Homo sapiens: one gene and its partner. The protein of the gene in region 2 interacts with the protein of the main gene of each other region in a pairwise test. Each region holds a gene or a part of one and is shown on either strand. Other genes may lie near its edges.

Region 1 (3,500 bases), on a different chromosome or scaffold from region 2:
TTCCTAACAGGCCACGGACCACTACTGTTCCACAGCCTGGAACAGTAGAACGGAGCTGGGGACCGTTTTAGAGTATTCCAGGGTTTTCAGGCAGGAGGCCGTGGGGATTAGGGAAGGGCAGGGCTGGCCAATCACAGGTCTGTATCATCCACTCCGCTTTTGTGACAAATACCCTAGGCCACCTCCAACCTGCTTTAGTTAGCATCAGACTCCCGGAAGAAGGACCTCTGGTTATTTCCAGCCACAGCCACCAGAGGGCGCTCCCATCCCAGAGCTGAGCACAGACTAATGGGTCCCAATATCAGGAGTGCTTGTATGGGCTATGCACTGCTCAAGACTTCACATCAGTTTCATAGAATCCACCCAACTTGCGAGGTGGGGACTTGTTTTCTCCACATGAACCATAACAAAACCCGTGTCCGGGGAGGTTAAGTAATTCACCCAGTCTCTTTGGAGGTAACCTGTGGAACCAGGATGGGAATGCTGCTAAAATCCCCGCTGCTGTCCCTCCCATGCCCTCTTTCCCTGGGACCCGCCCTCACTCTGATGCCGGGTGATGGCCAGCACGAGGAAGGTGCAGAAGGCAGCGATGGAGACGGCCGAGAAGAGGACGCCCACGAAGAAGAAGCCGCGCAGCCCCTTGAGCCAGGTCCTCCAATAATCTTGCATGTACATCACGTGCGTCACCAGGACCCACAGTGCCAGCACCCCTGCAGGAGAGACACATCAGGGCCCATCCCCAGGGTGCTCCAGAGCCCTGCAGATCCACTAGACCAGGCCTATTTGCATAAGAATACCAAGAATATGGTCTTGTCTCTCATTCCCTCATAGAATGGAGTTTTCCTTTTCGGAGGCTGTGATATCAGAAGCAGGTAAGAGACTGAGCTGCCTGCTAGTAAGCCCAACATTAGAGAAACCTGCAGAAATACAAAACCCTACCATTCTCTCTGATTTTATTTTGTTTTGGAAAACATGAATATCTCTCACAAAAATGTTATGTTAATTCATGTTATTTTTAGTATTACTTTAAAATGCTAAAAAATGTTCTAACTTCTAATATAGTATATATCAATAGCTAAAACTCACATACATAAAATTTGCATGGAGTTTCACTACTTTTCAAGAGGATAAAAGGATCCTGAAAACCAGAAAGTCTGTGCCTCAGCAGCCCAGCCTGCTTTCTGGGGACTTGCCACTGTCTACCCTGAGGGCCACAGAGCAGGGAAGCCATGCTCCTGCCCCATGCTCCTCCTCCACCCAGCCCTCAGAGGCCACAGTCTCAAAGTCACAAGGCCTGCAGGGCTCTTCCCAAACTGCCTGAGTTGGTTTTGCAGGATGAGGAGGTCCAGCCATGAAGACTCCAGGGCCACCCAACCCCTGAGTGGCCTTATTGTTCTTGGCCAGACCTCATGCCACTCCCTCCATTTTGCGGCAAAGGGCAGGCCATCACCACCTGCACCGCTCCCCACCCCCACTGCCCCCAGCTTTTCCTGGGCCTGGCCTCTGCGCCTGGGTGGACACTTCCTCTAGGATGCCAGCTGCCACCCAGCCAATACAATACAAAACAACCCTCTGTGCCAGGCAGTGCCTGCTGGTGCAGCCCAAAGAGTGGAACAAATATCAACTCCATTGGCAAGGGTCCGGGCAGGGCGGTGGATCCCGGCAAGGGACAAATGAGGAAGGAGGCAGAGCCAGCTGCAGGCTCTCAGCTGGTTGGGTTGCAAGGTGTGGGCCACTCAGGCCGCTGCATCCTAGGAGTCAGGAGGCCTTTCCAAAAGGCAGCTGCACACATGCCACTCAGAGTAGTTACCAAATGTGCACAGGAAGGATAAGCATCTGGTTGGGGAAAGTGGTTATCTCTGGCAATGGAGACAAGGAAGGGAAGTTGATGGGGCGGTGGGGGTGGGGAAGTGCTTTGAATCTATGGGAATCTATGCTATTTTGTTTCTTAGGCTGGGTGGGAAATCTATGCTATTTTATCTACGCTGTTTTCTCAGGCTGGGTTATAAGGGTGTTTGTTAAATCATCTATCCTTTTTTGTGTGCCTAAAATATTTCATAATTTGTTTAAGGGGGAAAAAGGCAGGAGGAAGCTTGTCACTGTGGAGCTATGCTCTGGTTACCAGCTCAGAGGCTGTCCCAGTTTGGCTGTCCCCAGACAGTCCAGTGAGGAACAAAAACCCATGAGACTCCAAGCCAAGAAACCAGGAGCCTGGCACTGCTGTGTCCCAAAGCCTTGGTGTTTCCACATCTAAAAATGGGTGGGCCCAGGGGTCCTGCCAGTTTAGGTAACTGGGCCCAGGGTTCTACCCTAGTGAGGGTGAAGGCCTACCAAGCCTACAGCTTCCCTCAGCCCCTGCCACCGTTTGACCCCCTGAACACTCTCCCAGCTTTGCCCCTGCCCACCTCCACTCTTCCTCAGGGGGTGGGGGCCTGGAATGTGGGTCCCCCTCCTACTGAGATCAGGGTGGGCCAGGACAAGCATCTGTTCCTCCCCACCTAGTCTGGATGCTGGAGTGGGCCAGAGGTGGACAGGACAATCATCCTGCAGCTTCCTCTTACCTCCTACAAGATCTGGATTTTTATACCAGCCACCTTTCACAGAAGTCCCTCCCACTCCTCACATGTGTCCCATGTTTTCATTTGAGGGAGCTGTTTGGTTTATAAAGGGCCCTGGGAACAAGGGGTGTTGTCACTGAGCACACTCAAGGAGCAGTCTGATGGGCACCTGTCTGGAACAGGTCCCCTCGCCCTCTGTCTCCTCGTGCCACAGAGGGGTTGGGGAAGTTGAGCTCTAAGATCCTTTCCCACTCAAAGATTCTAGAAGCCAGCTTGGGAGAAAAATAAGGTCAGAACAATTCCTCTGTGACTCAGCAGTTTCTGGGTTAGGAAATGCTGAAATAGGGGCCTGTGAAGATGCCATCTCTTAGTCCACTGGCCACGATCCAGTGGTTCCCCAAAACTCCCACCCCCATGTACATGCACATACCAAAGAGGGCTGAGGGCAGGAGGGAGAGGAAGACAGCCATTTGGGGGCGTTTTGGGCCCTGTTCTTTGTTAACAACAGGCATGGTTTACCCACCTCTCACCTTCCCTCAACCTTGCTCCAGGCCCTGCACAGAGGCCTCCCCTCCAGATAAACACACATCAAGTGTGGAGGCAGGCCTGCTGCCCACGCCCTGGCTCCCACCACCCTCCTGGGAAGGGAGCTCTCCACCAGCCCTACCCAAGGGGGTCACTGAAGGAGATGGAGCCCCTCACTGGTCCCCTCCCACACATCAGGCAGGAGGCAATGTATCTCCCTAATACCCTTCCCTGGCACACTTGGGGACTCTAGGAAGCCTGGTTTATAAAACTCGGGGTGGAATGGACAGGTCCCCAATCCCACCTGGCTGCAAGCCCACACCAGACCACACCGTTGCTCCATCCTACCTGTTTCAAGGAGCAGAGCCCCTGCTTAGCCATGTGAGCTTATTGGCTCACAGCCGATAAGCTAAGGGT
Region 2 (2,204 bases):
GTCTCCCTTGGCATACTCTTTCCCTGAAGAAAAGAAGAGAGAGATATGAAGAATAAAGGCAGTGAAAGGAACACACACTTGTGAGAGCTGGGGGTCCCTGCAAGAAGACAGACTTCATAACCTTCCCATGCGTCTGCTTCCTCATCCGTGAAATGGGGTAACTGTTTGGATTCTAGTGGTTTATTTCTCTAAAACAAGGTAATATGTGTAAAGCCTGACACAAAACAGTGTGGCTGTGATTGGTACTCAAGAAGTGTGTGTGGTATAAAAGGAAGCAGGTGTAGATGATGGAGTGAGTGAAGTAGCCAATGAGAGAGAGAGAATGTAGGTGAACAGATGAGTGAATACAAGAGTGAGCAGAGAATCAGAAAGAAAAAGACCGCCGGGCACGATGGCTCATGCCTGTAATCCCAACACTTTGGGAGGCTGAGGTGGGATGATGGCTTGCATAAAGGAGTTCAAGACCAGTCTGAACAATATAGTGAGACCCCCAACTCTATAAAACATACAAAAATTAGCTGGACGTGGTGGCACGTGCCTACAGTCCCAGGCTGCAGTGGGAGGATGTCTTGAGCCCAGGAGGTTGAGGCTGCAGTGAGCTATGATAGCACCACAGTGCTCAGCCTGGACAACAGGGTAAGACCCTGTCTCAAAAAAAAAAAAAAAAAAGAAAGAAAGAAAAAGATCATCCAATATAAAATAGGCAGAAGACTTGAATAGGTTCTTCACAAAGAGGATTTCTAAATGGCCAATAAGTATATGAAAGATGTTCAAACTTCCATTAGTCACTAAGGAAAAGCAAATTAAAACCATAATGAGATATCACTCACATCTACTGGAATGACTAAAATTTAAGAAACATCTGACCAGCCGGGCACAATGGCTCATGCCTGTAATGTTTTTTTTTTTTTTTTTTTTTTTTGAGACGGAGCCTTGCTCTTATCGCTCAGGCTGGAGTGTGCAGTGGCGCAATCTCAGCTCACCACAACCTCCGCCTCCCAGGTCCCAGAGATTCTCCTGCCTCAGCCTCCTGAGTAGCTGGGATTACAGGCACCTGCCACCACGCCCAGCTAATTTTTAGACTTTTAGTAGAGACGGGGTTTCACTATGTTGGCCAGACTGGTCTCAAACTCCTGACCTCAGGTGATCTGCCCGCCTTCGCCTCACAAAGTGCTGGGATTACAGGCATGAGCCACTCTGCCCGGCCTTGTTTATAATGGCAGAAGATTGAGGGAAAATGCCCATCAATACTACACAAGTCAAGCAACTGTACAATGTCCATGCTTTGAAAGCTCTTTATGAAATCATGAGGAGTGACCTCATTAAAAAAAGCAGCTGGGTGCGGTGGCTCATGCTTGTAATCCTAGCACTTTGGGAGGCTGAGGTGGGCAGATCACTTGAAGCCAGGAGTTGGAGAACAGCCTGGGCAACAAAGCAAGACGCCATCTCTTAAAAAAAAAAGTTGTTAAAAAAAAAATAACTTGGTGGGGTGGCACATGCCTATAATCCCAGCTACTAGGGAGGCTGAGGCAGGAGGATTGCTTGATTGCCCAGGAGTTCAAGGTTGCAGTGAGCTATAATCATGCCACTGCACTCTAGCCTGGGTGACAGAGCGAGACCCCGTCTCAAAAAAGAAAATGGCTTCTTTGGTTTTCTTGTAAGGAAAGAAAGAAAAAGAGAAAAGATTAGAAGTATATATAGCATATTACCATTTGTGTAAAAAGGGAAAAGTGCAAATAATGATAATAATAGTGAACAGTTACATGGCAACCACTGTTTGCCAAACACTGTTCTAAGTATCTTACATATAGTTGGTTATTACTATTATCCTCCTTTTACAATTGAGCAAATTGAGACTTACGTGTGTAAATAAACTGAAAAGAAACATAAACAACTATCAACAGTGCCTAACAGCGTTTGGGGAAACTTAGTGGATAGAAAGCAGATTTTCACTGCAAATCTCTTTAAATGGTTTTTTGACCCACGTGAATATACATGCAACAAAAAAGTTAAATAAGGCTGGGCACGGTGGTGCGCACCTGTCATCCCAGAATTTTGGGAGGCTGAGGTGGAAGGATTGCTTGAGCCCAGGAGTTAAAGAACAGCCTGAGCAACATAGCAAGACCTTGTCTCTACAAAAAAGTGAAAATATTAGCCAGGCATAAAGGTGTGCACCTATAGTATAGTCCCAGCTACTGGGGAGG

The links. Proteins that work in one complex are often made in the same cells at the same time.
Region 1: the proteins of EBP (region 2) and SLC48A1 interact in binary tests that used the Homo sapiens proteins (3 or more experiments, as listed by UniProt).

What each region holds. Positions count from the first base shown.
Region 1 is NC_000012.12:47,776,238-47,779,737, reverse strand, and holds part of SLC48A1 (heme transporter HRG1), read right to left. Parts: intron 711-3,500; coding exon 543-710; intron 1-542. UniProt on the Homo sapiens protein: Heme transporter that regulates intracellular heme availability through the endosomal or lysosomal compartment. In macrophages of the reticuloendothelial system, is the heme transporter for heme-iron recycling.
Region 2 is NC_000023.11:48,524,808-48,527,011, reverse strand, and holds part of EBP (3-beta-hydroxysteroid-Delta(8),Delta(7)-isomerase), read right to left. Parts: intron 24-2,204; coding exon 1-23. UniProt on the Homo sapiens protein: Isomerase that catalyzes the conversion of Delta(8)-sterols to their corresponding Delta(7)-isomers a catalytic step in the postlanosterol biosynthesis of cholesterol.